2 separate regions of the Homo sapiens genome follow, and region 1 is linked to region 2. A link means that fine-mapping ties the variant in region 2 to the expression of a gene that starts in the linked region. Tissue or cell type: whole blood. Region 2 holds a variant in brackets; the other region holds the start of a gene. All regions are shown on one strand. Distances are between the middles of the regions.

The links. PIP is the estimated chance that this variant, and not a neighbour inherited with it, causes the effect.
Region 1: MDK starts here. The variant in region 2 is fine-mapped to the expression of MDK in whole blood (TOPMed, PIP above 0.99).

What each region holds. Positions count from the first base shown.
Region 1 is chr11:46,377,440-46,385,439 of GRCh38, forward strand. It overlaps MDK (midkine), which reads left to right and starts at 4,230. Exons shown (of 5, transcript NM_002391.6): 1 at 4,230-4,319; 2 at 4,618-4,694; 3 at 4,855-5,022; 4 at 5,148-5,309; 5 at 6,030-6,362. The coding sequence starts at 4,619. The coding sequence ends at 6,055. DGKZ (diacylglycerol kinase zeta) reads left to right here. Exons shown (of 31, transcript NM_001199267.2): 26 at 759-790; 27 at 1,018-1,061; 28 at 1,552-1,672; 29 at 1,764-1,797; 30 at 2,030-2,129; 31 at 2,392-3,112. The coding sequence ends at 2,508. It overlaps CHRM4 (cholinergic receptor muscarinic 4), which reads right to left. Exons shown (of 2, transcript NM_000741.5): 2 at 6,350-8,000. The coding sequence ends at 7,679. RefSeq lists an enhancer at 2,961-3,595 and silencers at 3,095-3,304, 3,735-3,934, 4,365-4,474, 4,895-4,944, 4,920-5,214.
Region 2 is chr11:46,339,160-46,347,159 of GRCh38, forward strand. It overlaps a transcript of DGKZ not described here. Among named protein-coding and RNA genes, the nearest start is that of DGKZ, 4.3 kb to the right of the region's middle. RefSeq lists enhancers at 1-709, 5,987-6,096, 6,040-6,334, 7,037-7,106, 7,177-7,226. The variant C/G (reference allele first, on the strand shown) is at 4,907.

The sequences.
Region 1 (8,000 bases), 38 kb after region 2:
TCAGCCAGTCCTGGCAGCCCCCGGACCCACCACCTGAGCACTCCTCCCCACCCCTACTGCCACCAGCCCTTCCCGGCTGCCACGCCCTGGCCCCCAGCTCTTATATCCCTGTGGCCATTCGTGCCCTCGAACCCCCATCTCCATACCACGGTCAACTAAAAATGCAGAGCATACCAGGCCACTCCCCAACCTAGAAGCTTCTTTCTCAGCAGCCCTTTGGACGTGGATTCTCCCCAGGCCCCCCGTCATTGCACTGGGCTCCCAGCCCCCTCCCTGAGTTCACCTCCATGGTCCTGCCCCACTCTCTTCTCTTGGTTCTTTGAGGCATCAGGTGTTTGCCACCACTGGACTTCTGTCATCGCTGCCTCCAACTCTTCCCCCATCTTTCCGGAGCTCCCCCACCCCCATCCCCTTCGAATCTCAGCTTGGCTGTTTCCTCCTTGGAGAGATCACTCCCAGGACCCCCTCTGCAGGGGTGCCACATCACCTGTTCTGAATTCTTAAGAGCACCCCTGCTCTCAGAACTCCTTATTTATTTGACTTGTTTGTATCCCTGAACTAGAATGTAAGCTCCATGAGGGCAAGGCCTTCCTCTGTCTCGTTTCCCTGCTGTATCCCCAGTGCCTGGAATAGTGCTTGGTGTGTAGCAGGCACTCAATAAACTGTGGAAAGGATGAAGATGCCCCCAGTTGGGGTTGGGGAGGGCGACCAGCTGGCCTGTGCCGTAGCCGGTCACAGCACATCATGCTCTGTTGCAGGTCACTGCAAGGGGATGCTGCACCCCCTCAAGGTGAGGCCTCTCCCTCTGGGGCCCCTCCTTTCTGCCTGGTTGGGGGCAGGAGGCTCAGTGGGGTGGGGATAGGGCCCAGACACAGCCTTACACAAACACAGCCTTTGAGCTTCACGCACCAACGGAGCCCTGGGCACACATGCCTGGCCGGCACAGTCCTGTCCACTGAGGCACCAACCCAAGCCCAGGCCTCCGACTGCAGAGTAACAGGCAGGTATTCCGTGCAGGTGAAGAGCTGATTGAGGCTGCCAAGAGGAACGACTTCTGTAAGGTACTAGCTCCAGGCTCCAGTTCCTTCCCCCAGCAGCTCCCTCGGGCCCTGGGGAGCGAGGCCTCTGGGTTGGGCCAAGAGCTGACCTGCTCAGGTGCTGTCATCTGTCATCGTCTGGCCCTCTGTGGGATCTCCAGTGATCGTCCCATTCCACTTCACTGTATCTCTGTCTAGGCCACAATAGATGGCTCCTAGTAGGGGCTTCCTAGCTCAGTCCACCTGTCCCTGGTGCTTAGAAAGGAGCAGGTCAGAGGAAGCACTGCTCCAGGGCTTGGTCACCAGTGCTGCCAGAGAGCCCACAGGCTGTGGGGTGAGAGGCCCCTCCTCCGGTGTGCTCCAGAGAGACCCACAGAGGCAACTCAGGAGTAAGATGTGTGAGCGCACTCGTTTCAGGCCTGTGCTGGTGTACCCGGCTGTGGGCCAGCGTGTGAGCTCAGGGAAGGAGGGGTGGCCCCAGGAGGTCCAGCCCTGCCATGCCTCCTGCCCTCAGCTCCAGGAGCTGCACCGAGCTGGGGGCGACCTCATGCACCGAGACGAGCAGAGTCGCACGCTCCTGCACCACGCAGTCAGCACTGGCAGCAAGGATGTGGTCCGCTACCTGCTGGACCACGGTGAGCCGGGCAGTGGAGCCCAGGGCCTGGGGCCAAGGTGGGAGGAGGAGGGGCTGCCAGGCCTCTCTGACCACCACCTCCCCTTCTCCAGCCCCCCCAGAGATCCTTGATGCGGTGGAGGAAAAGTAAGTATCTGGGCAGTGCAGAACCGTGGTCACCCCGGAAACCACCCTTTTCCCCACCCCTCCCATTTTGTCAGGTCAGAGCCCATAAACTTCCTGGTCACATCTGTCATCCCCTGGGCCACCCCTATTGCCCCAGAGCCCTGAACTTCCTGCCCTTTCTGATGGCCCTTGGGAGACAGATGGGTGGATCAGGGGACGGGATGGGGTACACAGCCAGCCCCTGCTCCCCCAGCGGGGAGACCTGTTTGCACCAAGCAGCGGCCCTGGGCCAGCGCACCATCTGCCACTACATCGTGGAGGCCGGGGCCTCGCTCATGAAGACAGACCAGCAGGTGAGCAGACGGCAGGCAGGGAGCCCACGAGGGCACCAACCAAACCTTTCCCAAGGTCCTAGGCGGGAGCTGGGGCTGGGGGCTGTCCCTGGGAAGACACAGTCCAGACCCTGGGAAACCTGAGCCAGCAGGGGAGGAGCTGGTGGGCAGAGAGGCCTCCCTCCCTGACCAGGCCACAGGGAGGTAGAGCCCCTGCCTCTCAGCCTGCTAGGGGTTAGGCCTGCCTCTGGCCCCTGCTGATCGCAGCTCCGCCCTCCTCCAGGGCGACACTCCCCGGCAGCGGGCTGAGAAGGCTCAGGACACCGAGCTGGCCGCCTACCTGGAGAACCGGCAGCACTACCAGATGATCCAGCGGGAGGACCAGGAGACGGCTGTGTAGCGGGCCGCCCACGGGCAGCAGGAGGGACAATGCGGCCAGGGGACGAGCGCCTTCCTTGCCCACCTCACTGCCACATTCCAGTGGGACGGCCACGGGGGGACCTAGGCCCCAGGGAAAGAGCCCCATGCCGCCCCCTAAGGAGCCGCCCAGACCTAGGGCTGGACTCAGGAGCTGGGGGGGCCTCACCTGTTCCCCTGAGGACCCCGCCGGACCCGGAGGCTCACAGGGAACAAGACACGGCTGGGTTGGATATGCCTTTGCCGGGGTTCTGGGGCAGGGCGCTCCCTGGCCGCAGCAGATGCCCTCCCAGGAGTGGAGGGGCTGGAGAGGGGGAGGCCTTCGGGAAGAGGCTTCCTGGGCCCCCTGGTCTTCGGCCGGGTCCCCAGCCCCCGCTCCTGCCCCACCCCACCTCCTCCGGGCTTCCTCCCGGAAACTCAGCGCCTGCTGCACTTGCCTGCCCTGCCTTGCTTGGCACCCGCTCCGGCGACCCTCCCCGCTCCCCTGTCATTTCATCGCGGACTGTGCGGCCTGGGGGTGGGGGGCGGGACTCTCACGGTGACATGTTTACAGCTGGGTGTGACTCAGTAAAGTGGATTTTTTTTTCTTTTCTGCTTTTCTTCTTTTGCGGGGGAGGTCTAACAAGCAGCGGGGGCTGCGGGGTTGTCCTCGGGGTGGGGGACTGGACGCTGTCGACAGCACCTTCCTGGGGCCCCGGCTCCCGTTTGGTGGTTGGTCCCAGGGCCTGCCCGGTTCCTGACCTCTGCCCGGCGGCCGCGCTCGTCGGGGCCGGGGGCGGGGCCGATCCCTCCGGCTTCCCGCTTCCCGCGGAGAACAACAATGAAAGTGAAAGAGGGGTGGGGCGGGGGCGAGCCCGGGTTCTGTGGCCCATTTGCCCTGTGGCCTTGAGCAAGCCCCTCCCCCAGGCCTCGGGGGCTCTCCCGGTTTGGGGGAACCGGGCGAGGCAATGCCACAGGCCCAGGGTTAGAGGGGGTGGGCACTTGCAGCTGCCGATGTGGCTGGATCTGGAACTTCTCAGACGGCTCCTGTCAGCGCCAAGTTTCACCAAATCCAGGCCTGCGGGCTCCTCCCCCAGGACCCCCACTCGCAGTCCCTCAAGCCTGTGCTCCCGGAAAGGCACTGGGCGACCGCACCCGTGGCTTTCTCTGGGCGACCGGGTCCCAGACTCCCCCCAGCACAGCAGAGCGCTTCCCTGCCCACCCGCGGAAACCGCCCCAGGTGGGCCGCGCCCCCTCCCCAGCAGCCAGCAGGGCGCCAGGGCTGAGCCGGCCGTGGAGGGGAGCGGGTCCCGCGGGTTATACAGGCGCCGGGGCTCCGCGGCAGGCAAGAGAAGCTGAGGCCTGAGAACGGCCCGGGCCTTGGCGTACGGCAGGGGACGACCTGGGATGGGGGCAGCGGGCGGCGGCGCAGGGAGTGGGCCGGGGGCCGGTGTGCGCGGGCGGGACGGGGCCCGGGGTCGGGAGACCACCGCTCGGAAGATGGGGCCGGGAGAGGCCGCCGTCGCAGCGCAGAGGGCACCGGCGGGGAGACGCGAGGACGCGGGGCCGGGAACACGGACGCCGGAGTAGAAGCGCGGGGGGCGCGGGCTGGAGCGGGGGCGGGGACGCCGGGGTCGGGGGCGGTGCGGGTTTGAGGGGAGGGGGCGGGGCGGGTCCTTCCCTGGGGGGGTGGGGAGAGGGGGCGGGGGCCCATGTGACCGGCTCAGACCGGTTCTGGAGACAAAAGGGGCCGCGGCGGCCGGAGCGGGACGGGCCCGGCGCGGGAGGGAGCGAAGCAGCGCGGGCAGCGAGCGAGTGAGCGCGCGGCGGCCCCTGGTCCGCCCGGCCGCGGCCGATCTAGGGGCTGGGGGCTGGAGGCGGGGGTGGGGGTCTGAGCTGCGTCCTGGGCTCGAGGCGTCCCCCGGGGAGTCGCCTCTTAGCGGTGCGTCCGGGCTAGCGGCGAGGGGCCGCCCCAAGTCTTCCCACCGCCGCCACCTTAGCAGCCCGACTTGGGGCCTGGAAAGTGGAGCACGCGGAGGTGGGAGGGCCCTGCACGCGGCCCCCGGTGGGGAAGGGGACGGGCCAGGGATTCAGACTCGGGCTCTCCCCTCAGGATGCAGCACCGAGGCTTCCTCCTCCTCACCCTCCTCGCCCTGCTGGCGCTCACCTCCGCGGTCGCCAAAAAGAAAGGTGATGGGGGATGATCGAAGGAGGGCTGGGGACGGGCAGGCGAGGCCCCTCCACTTCTGGGCTGGGCCGCCTGGGTTCCTAGCCTGGAACCCCAGGAAGGCGGCTCCCGAGGGAGTCTCCCCGTGCCCCAGTCCTGAACTCTGTTCCTCGCGCGTTGTAGATAAGGTGAAGAAGGGCGGCCCGGGGAGCGAGTGCGCTGAGTGGGCCTGGGGGCCCTGCACCCCCAGCAGCAAGGATTGCGGCGTGGGTTTCCGCGAGGGCACCTGCGGGGCCCAGACCCAGCGCATCCGGTGCAGGGTGCCCTGCAACTGGAAGAAGGAGTTTGGAGGTGAGGCGGGGCGCAGTCAGAGGGCAGGAGACGGGGGGCACAGCCTCGCCGAAGCCTGGGCGGACCCTTGGCGGAGGGCGGGGCCGCGGGCCGCGCAGCGCTGACCTGGGCCGCTCTCTCGCCAGCCGACTGCAAGTACAAGTTTGAGAACTGGGGTGCGTGTGATGGGGGCACAGGCACCAAAGTCCGCCAAGGCACCCTGAAGAAGGCGCGCTACAATGCTCAGTGCCAGGAGACCATCCGCGTCACCAAGCCCTGCACCCCCAAGACCAAAGCAAAGGCCAAAGGTCAGCGAAAGGAGAAGGGGGTGGGGCTGTCGCGGGGGGCTGCCCCCCCCCCCCCCCGCCTGTGAGGGGACAATTCCAAGTTAAACCTTAAGTTTTGAGTCCTGGCCAGTGGCTTCCTGACATCGCCTCACTTGGCTTCCCTGCCTGGAAAAGTCTGAAGATGGGCACTACAAGAGAGGCCGCAGGTGATGCTGGGGACATAAATCCTCCCTGGCCCAAATAGGGACCAACTCAAACTACTCCATTGGAGCATCTGGCTTAGGACCCAGGGAGAGTGTCCTGGAACGGCTTGCCTTTGTCAGCTCTCCAGCCACGGGCAGCATTTGGTCAGCTCTGCCCTTTCTAGTGTTGGGAGGAGGTCAAGGCCCACCCTGGGCCTCTCAGCTCACTCGTGACTCAGCCCAGCGAGGCCAGCAGGGCAGGGGTGAATCTGCCCGCTTCTCAGGTGAGGAGGCTGAGGATGCCCAGGGCTGCTGTGACCAGGACTAGGACTGGAAACTTGAAGGTTTTCTGATCCCAAGTGGAAATAGGAAGCTGGGGATGTCCCATGTCCACATCACAATGGCTGCCCCATCCCCTGCTTCCGAGTCAGCTGATTGGAAACCACTAGGGGGCAGAATCTTCTCCTTCCCTGATGCCCGGGTGTTTGTGGAGCCGGCGGTCTGCAATGGGTCAGCCTAACTGCTGATATGGTATTAATATTTCTTTCTTGTTTTACAGCCAAGAAAGGGAAGGGAAAGGACTAGACGCCAAGCCTGGATGCCAAGGAGCCCCTGGTGTCACATGGGGCCTGGCCCACGCCCTCCCTCTCCCAGGCCCGAGATGTGACCCACCAGTGCCTTCTGTCTGCTCGTTAGCTTTAATCAATCATGCCCTGCCTTGTCCCTCTCACTCCCCAGCCCCACCCCTAAGTGCCCAAAGTGGGGAGGGACAAGGGATTCTGGGAAGCTTGAGCCTCCCCCAAAGCAATGTGAGTCCCAGAGCCCGCTTTTGTTCTTCCCCACAATTCCATTACTAAGAAACACATCAAATAAACTGACTTTTTCCCCCCAATAAAAGCTCTTCTTTTTTAATATATAAAAGCCCCTTCCCAAGGAGTTTGCTGTGGAAATGTGTTTGGGAGTGGGAAGGTGGGGAGAAAGACCAGGCTGTAGGGACTGGTGGGTTTCAGGGGGCTTGGTGGTGGGTGCTCTCCAGAGCTCATGGAAAAAGCAGAACAATTACAAACATTTCTTCCAGGGCCCCTGAAAGGGTGCTCCCCATCAAGTCACCTAAGCCTTTCGGTCCTCATCTCCCTCAGGGACCAGGGCTGGGGAAGGGAACCTGGCTGACTCACTGGAACCACCACACCCATCTCAGCCTCACCCAGTCAAAGGTCTTTTGATACAACCCACAGCCAATCAGGAAGGTTCTACCCATGGGGGAGAGCAGATGCGAGGGCTGCGTGCCTACCTCACTGCCCACCTCCCCCCTTCCCACTGTCATGGAAACCCGAGTGAGCCACCAGGTTGACCCCTTTCCTCTTGCCTGTGTGACCCAGGCCTCCACCCTGCAGAAGCCAGGGGGTGAGAGGTTTGAAGAGGGCAGATGGGAATGCCATCCACCACAGCCTCACCCTGACTCGATGTGTGACCTGGGACAGCCTTCTAAGGCCGGGGCTGCAGGGGGCTGTCTTCTGAATACGTGGACCACTCACGGCTCAGCCTGGGATCGCAGAAGGCCAGACCTCAGTTCCTGAGACAGAACCTCTGACCTCCCAGCTGCCCCATCTTAATGTGACAAGGGCAGTGCTGCTGGGGCGGGGGGGACCTGGCCTCCATCATACCCACCCAGAACCTGGCTAAGTAGCTGCAGCCAGAGGAGATTTCTGCCCCTGGAGTGGGATTTGGGGAGAGGGGGCTGAGCCTACATGCGGGGTGCAAGGGGGCAGAAAGCACCGATTACAGCAGAATGGGGGACCCCACCCTTCTACTCCCTTCCCAAGCCTCCTTTTCCAAGCACTGGCCCCTTTGTTCTTCCTGAGGGGGCCCTGGGCTTCGGCCCCCATCCAGATGTCCATTCTTCCAGCACTGCTGATGGTTGGTCACAGTGGGGCAGGTGCCCACCCAGGCCAGTGCCCCGCAGCTCGCTGAAGCAGGGCCACAGAGGTGGGCCAGGCAGCCCCAGTTCAGACACTCCCTGGGGTGAGCCTCCTCAGCCTGAGCAGAGATCTGGTCTCTGAATGCAGCCACAGAGCCTCTTCTGAACTTCCTCCTCAGCAAACGTGAACGCAGAATGGTGCCTGCAACTCTTCCCCACAGCAAGTGAGCCGTGTGGTCCCCCCAGCACACGCACGCAACACCAGCACCTCCTAGGGCACTCCTGCCTGCCTACCTGGCAGTGCCGATGTTCCGATACTGGCACAGCAGCAGGTGCCGGAAGGTCTTTTTAAAGGTGGCGTTGCACAGAGCATAGCAGGCAGGGTTGATGGTGCTGTTGACGTAGCAGAGCCAGTAGCCAATGGACCACACCGTGTCAGGGATGCAGCTCTGGCAGAAGGTGTTCACCAGGACCATGACGTTGTAGGGCGTCCAGGTGAGGATGAAGGCTAGCAGAATGGCAAAGATCGTTCGTGTCACTTTGCGCTCCCGGGCCGCCATCTGCCGCTTCTTGCGCACCTGGTTGCGAGCGATGCTGGCGAACTTGCGGGCC
Region 2 (8,000 bases):
TGCTGCGGGTCCACGACTCCTCAAGGGAGGGGCACCTGATCCAACTCTCCCTGCGGCTATTTACCAGAAGCTAAAAATAACCCAAGAGTGACAGGGAGATGGGGCCGATTTGTAATTTAAATAGCAACAGGATAAAGCAAGGAGCTGCCAGAGATCACATTCTGTCCTGAATTAACAATGCAAAACCAGGGGCAGAGAGCTGAGCTGAGCAGGGGGAGGGGACCACGGCCAGAGGAAGCCTGGGGTCCATCAATTTTCTTTCCTTTGAAAAGGGCGGGGCCCAGGCCCAGCCCGGAACTCCTTCCCTCCCCTCAGGGACCTGCAGTTCTTGCTGATCAGTGAGTCAAAGGCCAGAGAGGGCAGTGCCACACTGTCCCAGAGGCCAACGTGCAGGGATCGGGATCCCAGGAGAGGGTCTTATCTGACCTCATTTTGGCACAAGGAGCTTGGGACGTGCCCCCAGCAGCCCATGTCCCCCAGTCCCCGCACCAAGGGGCACAGCCACTTGGGCATTTTGGAGGGAACCTGGGAAGGCCAGTTTGATCAATGGCATTTGAAGAACTTATTTGGTGGCCTGCTGAGATGGTGGCCTGTGGGCCAAGCATGGGGAAGCCTGGAGTGGAGTCTCATTTTTGCCTCAGTTGGTGCCTTTCAGAGTTTTCAGAAAGGCCCCTCCAAGGTCCAGGGTGCCAGGGACAAGGGTTAGTACCAACTGGAGAAAACCTCTCTTCAATGACATACAAAGAGGGTGGGGAAGGAACTGGGACTGGACTCTAGGCTTCTGCAGGGCTCCAGTGTGACTGACAAGGGCTCTCGGCCTATAGATGCCTGGAAAAGGCTAATCAGAGATTGCAGAGTAGGCAGTGCTTTGGAGGCCACTGGGCCGCAGCTTACAAATGAGGAGCTAAGGTTGGCAGAAGTTAAGCAATGTGTTGAGATCACAGAGCCAGTAACTGGTGGAGCCAGGATCCAGACTGAGATCTGTTTCTCTCCAAAGCCCTTTTTACTCTGTCAGGCTTGCAAAGGCCTAGACTTTCATCCTTGAGGATCTTGCTTTTGGCTCTGTACAAAGTGTACATATCTCTGGGTGTGGTAATAGGATAGGTAGTAAGGGGGCTGAAAGGTAGCTATGCAATCAGGGCTTATGACCCTACAGATGTGAGTGGGAGGCTTGGAAGGCAGGAGACACACTGACCGTGTCGTGGGGGCTTGGTGTAGTCCAGGGTGGGGACAGATGGAAACTTTTGAGCAGATGCAGCTGACCCAGACTAAGGGGAGAGCTGTGCAGGCTCCTCTCTCACCTCCAATCCAGGAAATTGGGAGGTGCCAAAGGACAGCTTTCAAGAGACATGGTGGTTTGAAGGACCACCTTTGGCTGCTGGGCCGCCAGTGCTGTGCCTGCAGCTCTCTTGCCTCAGCAGGAGAGGGTCTCCAGCCCCTCCTCCAGGTTTCCTCCTGCTCATGACTTTCGTGAAGCTACCCAAAAGGAACCTAGTCAAATGTCCATCTGTCACTAGCCAGCAGCACCTGCAACCCAGCTCAGACACATCTGTCTCCTCTGTGGGGGCAGAGGCCCAGCACTTCAGCAGGGGCCAGTGATCAGCAGGTGATCCCAGGCTCTGGGTTGCTCCCAAAGGCTTCAGCAGGTGCCCAGATCACAGGCATAGCTAATGGGGAGGCATGCACTTAAACTTCAAAATCCTTGTAGGACAGGCATGGTGGCTCACGCCTGTAATCCCAGAATGTTGGAAGGCCAGGGCGGGCCAATCACTTGAGGCCAGGAGTATGAGACCAGCCTGGGCAACATGGCGAAACCCTGTCTCTACTAAAAATACAAAAATTGCCAGGTGTGGTGGGACATACTTGTAATCCCAGCTACTTAGGAGGCTGAGGCAGGAGAATCGCTTGAACCTGAGAGGCGGAGGTTGCAGTGAGCTGAGATCATGCCACTGCACTCCAGCCAGGGCAACAGAGCAAGGCTCTGTCTCCAAACTCTCCATGTCTCACCATGGCCACTTAGGCAAACAAGAAGCCAGTCTCCCTCCCTCCCTCTGCCCAGCCTTCTGAACACCTGTATTCAACCCATGGCAACTTCCATAGGAAGTCACTGAGCACAAACTCATGTACCCAGCACTGAGCTAGGAGCAACATAAGGTTCAAGAATTTTGTAAGGAAGCAAGACTAAGTGCACAAAAAGTCAGATGATACAGGAATATCATTGGGAACAAAAGTGAGCATCATAGGTAAGGGATCAGCAGGTGGGGTGGAATGCCAGTTCAGGAGAAGTGTTTGACACTTGGTAGATATTTATGAAATATTTGTCGTACAAATGAATGAAGGAATGAATGACCAAAAACTTGGAAATCAGGAAAGAAGATTCAAATGGAACTGTCAGATCTAGAGCAGATCTTAGAAATCATCTGGTCCAACCCAGAGAGGGTAATGACTGGCCCACAGTCACACAGCAAGGGCTGGAGTGTGAACCAATGGACTCCATGTCTGCGGCTCTTTCTACCTTCCCACTTTTGCTGCTTGGGCTGGGTCTGAAGGATGGAGAATGTGATTGGCCAAATACTCAGGGAAGACAACCTAGGAGTGCAACATAGGCAAAGGGAATGGCAGGGGTTAGGGCCACATGTGAAGGGAATGCGAAAAGGGGGAGGAGGGGAGGTTCATTTAGCACCTACTATGAGGCAGGCACTAGCATGGCATGAGCTGAGAGAAAATCTCTGCAGGGAAAGCCTGGACAAAGAGGCGGAAAAGCAAGAACAGCCAGAGAACGTAAGGAGCCGCGAAGGTCAGGCCAAGGAGGCTGGCTGGGCGGGTTTTGACAGCAGAGGATGTCCAGGTCGTGGGTTGAGTGTTTGTTGCCCTGGTACATTTCTTTTCCCCAGCTCCCACTTGCTCATCCAGGCCACAGAAAGTAGAACACCAACCTCTGGGGCCTCAACAAAGCCCAGAATAATTTTCTTACCCAGATTCTTCTTCCTGTGTGTACCTGGGTGGATTCTGAGGGGTCCCCAGCTTCCCAGGGCTGGCACATGTTGTCCTAGGAACTGCCAAGGGCATCCTCCATAGTCCCATGCACCTGTCCCTTCCAGCCGTGTCCTCCCCACCCCACCTGGAAAGCAGAGATGACATTGACAGCGCCAAGGAGTGCAAGTTCAAGGTGGCCCTAGTCTCACAGTCAGGACTGCCCTGCTTCTTGAAGCCTCCAGCCTGCCTGCTTCCCCTCCAGGAGCCCCATTTCCTGCTCTCTGCAGCTCCAGGGCTGCCAGACGCCTCAGATGGAAAACAAGCCCAGCCCCATTTCCTCTGTTTAACTGCTCGAGCTACTTGCAAAATGCCTGCAAGAGGAAGGCAGGGCCCTGCACAGCCTCCTTCCAGAATAGACCTTGGTCTGGTGGACACAGTCTCCGATGAGGCCACAGCATATAGAACCCATCTTGAGGCATTCAGAGATAATGGGTTGGAGAGGAAACGTGGAAAAGTGGGGACTGAGCCTTGGGGGCATTACATGGCCATATCCCCTACCTTAGAGCAGCAATAGGATGTTTTATTTAAGAGCACAGATTCTGGGGCTAGATTCTCACTTCTACCACTTACCAGCTGGGTGACCTTAGACAGGTAAGCTTAGCAGCCCTGTGCCTTGATTTCCCCATCTGTAAAAGGAGGAAAATAAGGCCAGGTGCGGTGGCTCATGCCTGTAATCCCAGGACTTTGGGAGGCCAAGGCGGGCAGATCACTTGAGGTCAGGAATTCAAGACCAGCCTGGTCAACATGGTGAAACTCCGTCTCTACTAAAAATACAAAAATTAGCTGGGCATGGTAGCGCACGCCTGTGATCCAAGCTACTCTGGGGGTTGAGGCACAAGAATCGCTTGAACCTGGGAGGCAGAGGATGTAGTAAGCAGAGATCACGCCACTACACTCCAGCCTGGGTGACAGAGTGAGGCTCAGTCTCAAAAAAAAACAAAAAAAAAGCAAAAAAAGGAGGAAAATAACAAGATCTACCTCCTAGAGTCATTAAGAGGATTCAAAGAGCTACGTTACATATTCAGTAAGATTTTTGGCACAGAAATGTTCAGGAACTATTAGCCATTGTTTTATGATTACTGAGTATTAATTATTAATTGCATAGCATGCATTTATTAAACAAATATTTACTGAAAAATATTATGTTCCCATCATGAGGGACACAAAGGTGATTACAGCACCAGATGGAGGTTTTTAAGGGTCGGGATAGCATCTTGAAGGGTTCTGTAGCATAAATGTTTACTGAACTGAACTGATGCTGTTTCTGTCCTCAAGAAATTCACAGTAACAAACACATATACAACTAAAGAACTAGTTATAGAGCAGGGCGATTAAAGAATGCTTGAGGAAGGTACAGTTTCCTTCCTAGAACCAGTCCTAAGAATAAAGAGTGAATATATGCCCTAGTATTTATTTACCAAATCCTCACAATGGCCTTGAACTCCAGCACAGTTTGGCCTCTGGAGATCTTTCCAGCTCCTAACGCATTCCCCCTGGCTCCCTGTTCTCTGGCCATGCTGGCCTTTTTGCAATTCTCCAGACACAAATACATTCTTTGTTCCATGCCTTTGCTCTGACTCTACTTCCACCTAGAATGCTATTCTCCCAGGTAAGTCACATAGCTCACGCTCCCCATTCATTCAGGTCTGCTCTCAAATATCACCTCCCCAGAGAGGCCCTCCCTGATCCCCTCCCCCTGCCTAAGTCACTCTCATCACTCTTCTCCCTTCCTTTGGCTTCATTTTTCTTTATAGCACATCTTTTTTTTTTTTTAGACAGAGTCTCATTCTGTTGCCCAGGCTAGAGTGCAGTGGTGTGATTTCAGCTTACTGCAAACTCCGCCTCCCGAATTCAAACGATTCTCCTGCCT[C/G]AGCCTCCAGAGTAGCTGGGATTACGGATGTCCACCACCACACCCAGCTAGTTTTTGTACTTTTAGTAGACAGGGGGTTTCACCATGTTGGCCAGGCTAGTCTCAAACTCCTGACCTCAAGTAACCCACCAGCCTCAGCCTCCCAATCTTTATGGCACATCTTGTTTGCTGACATTATATTGTACATAGATTGTTTGTTTCCTGAATGTCTTCCCCACTAGAATCTAAGCTCTGTGAGGACAGAGCCCTGCTTCCTTGTTTTTAGAGCTATGTTCTCCGATACGGTGCCTGATGCACAGAAGGCATTCAATAAGTATTTATTGAATGAATTAATTTGTCAACCTTCCTATCTCTTCTTTATTCCTCAGATAACACCATGAGCTCAATTTTTTTTTTTTTTTTTTGGAGACAGTGTCTCACTCTTGTCACCCAGGCTGGAGTGCAGTGGCGCGAACTCGGCTCATCACAACCTCCACCTCCCAGGTTCAAGCGATTCTCCTGCCTCAGCCTCCCAAGTAGCTGTGATTACAGGCACCTGCCACCACGCCGGGCTAATTTTTGTATTTTTAGTAGAAATGGGGTTTCACCATGTTGGCCAGACTGGTCTCAAACTCCTGAGCTCAGGTGATCTGCCCACCTCGGCCTCCCAAAGTGTTGGGATTACAGGTGTGAGCCACCATGCCTGGCCTATTACTCCACTTTACAGATGAGAAAACTGAGGCTCAGAAAATCTCCCTGGCACATGTATTCATTAGTTTATTTGTTTATAGGCTACCTTGTCCCAAAAGTTATTTAGAGGACTCCGAGAGGTTTATGACCTGATCCAGGCCACACAGAGCTGGTAAGAGGCAGAACAGGACACATGCTCATGTCTCCAGGCTCCATCCTCATTGCTCATTTCTCTACACCACCTTCCTGTATGCCCAGCCCTGTGTAAGATGGTATGCTGCACACAGAAGTGCTAGGAAGAGAGCGCTCTTTGAGGGCTGGGCACACCCAGCCATTGTACCTGGTGGTTGTCATAAAGCGGGAGACCTCAGCAGGACCAAGAGTTGAAAATCAGACAGTTTAAATGGAGAGGAAAACCAGACAGGAGCCCAGGTGCAGATTCCAGCCCAAGCAAGCCCCATGGCTGCCTCCTGGCTGCTGGTCTGGGCTTGTCCCCACCTGCCCCTTGCTTTCTTGTGCAGCTCTTCACGGCAGCTGGCCCCAGCCAGCGGAAGGCGCCTATGAGCCCTGAGCCTGTGGTCCTCAGCTTGGGCGGCCAGCGGCCTCTAGCAGGCCCCCCCCTCGACCCCACCCCCGTCAGGAAGTGCCGAAAGAGGAAGAGAGTCGCCGGGCAGGATGAGCGCACCGGGGGCTGGCCACAGTGCCGGGGGAAGCTGCAATGAATCCTCAGCTCTGGGCCCAGTGGAGGCGCTGGGGACGGAAGAAGGGGAGCGGCCGGGGTCACTGAGGCAGATGTGGCGCTACCGCTCCTGGGACGTGCCACAGATCCCATCAGAGGCACCCCAGACACAGTAGGTACAAGGGGTGGCCTGGGAGTGGGCATGGGACCTCTGTCCCTCTATGAGCCTTTTATCTGAGATGGGGGTGACAGAAGTAGGGTCACCCATCTGTCATCCAGCACTCTGCAGAGGCACAGAGTAGGGCAAAGGAGTTATTGGCAGGGTGCAGGGAGCTCTGATGTTTGGACTGTGTGGAGGAACTGAGCTCGAGAGAGGCCAGGAGTTGAGCAAGCTAGCAGTGGGGGGATCTGGGAAGAGGAGCCCCCCCAGGAGTGTGGCACTGGATGCTGGAGATTTCTGACCCAGCTGCAAGGCCTTGTGGAGACTCCGTGGGGTCTTCAGTTGCCTCTGATCTCTTCTCTCAGAGCTTGGAGTAAGAGCCATTGGGAAACTTCCCCAAAAGGACCCATGCACCCCAGAGGCCAGTTGTCAGGCATACTTGGGGATTGATCTGCCCTCCTCCTGGCCACCCTGGCACCAGCTGCTGGCTGGAGGGCTGGAGCCCCACCTCCCTGATCAGACCTTCTCCCAACTTGCAGGAAACTGGGAGAGGGTTCTGGGCCTCGGGGTGCTGGTTCTTCCTCAAAATCACAGGCTTGTCCGCAGGTCACAGCCCTAAGCATTGGCTATTTGCGGCTGACTAAGGCTGGAAAACGGGCTGCCAGAACCCAAGAGGGGAGGATGAAAGCGAAGGTGACACAGGATGTGGCTTGGCAGAGAGGCGTGCACACAGAAGTAGTGGGCAGCTGGTGTGGGCAGCAGGGTGGTAGGGTTTGGGGAGGTGGAAGACCATGCTTCCCAGCTCCTGGCCTCCCTTCGTCAGCCCTGCGGGGGCCATCAGAAACAGCCCCGGTGTGTGTGATGGCTGTGCCCCTACAGGTGACTGCTTGGGTTCCAATTGCTCTCATTTCTGGAGGGGGACGGCCTCGGCTGCATTGTGGGGTGTCTTTGTGTGTGCATGTGAGGTATATTTCTGGATGGGAGTGTGTGCATATGCACACACATACATATGTGTGAGGGATGTGGCAACCGGTAACCATTGTCCTGGGAGTATTTGTATGTAGGAGAAAGGTGTGTGTTCTGTGTGGGCATGTGTGCTTGTGAATGGGAGTGTGGTACCTGTTGTCCTTCTGTGTATTTGTGAGTGTGTAAGGGCTGTGCAGGTGATTCCCGTAGCATATGAGATCTATAGGTTCTGTTGAATACTATGTCAGGAAAATGCGATGTGTTGGGCCTGGGTGAGAAGGTTGGAAACCATTGTGAATAGCTGTGGAAGGATGACTTTGTAGGAGAAACTTGTGAGTTCTTTGTTGGTGTGTGTGCGAGTCATTAAGTGACTTTGGTCACTGAGTGCGAGAGGCTGGGGTGGGAAGTGTTCGTTTAAGTAATGAGTGGGCATAATTGTGTAAGGGATGTGTTTGTTCTGCGTGCATGGGGAGCACTGTGTGACTTTTGTTCCCCTGGGTGCGATTTGGGGGAGCCAAGGAGGTATGGGTGGAGATTGTGAGTGGCTATGAGTAGGGTGTGCGAGAGCGGAGGGGAGGTGGTGACAGCAGCCCTCGCGAGTGTACACTTGTGAGCGTGCA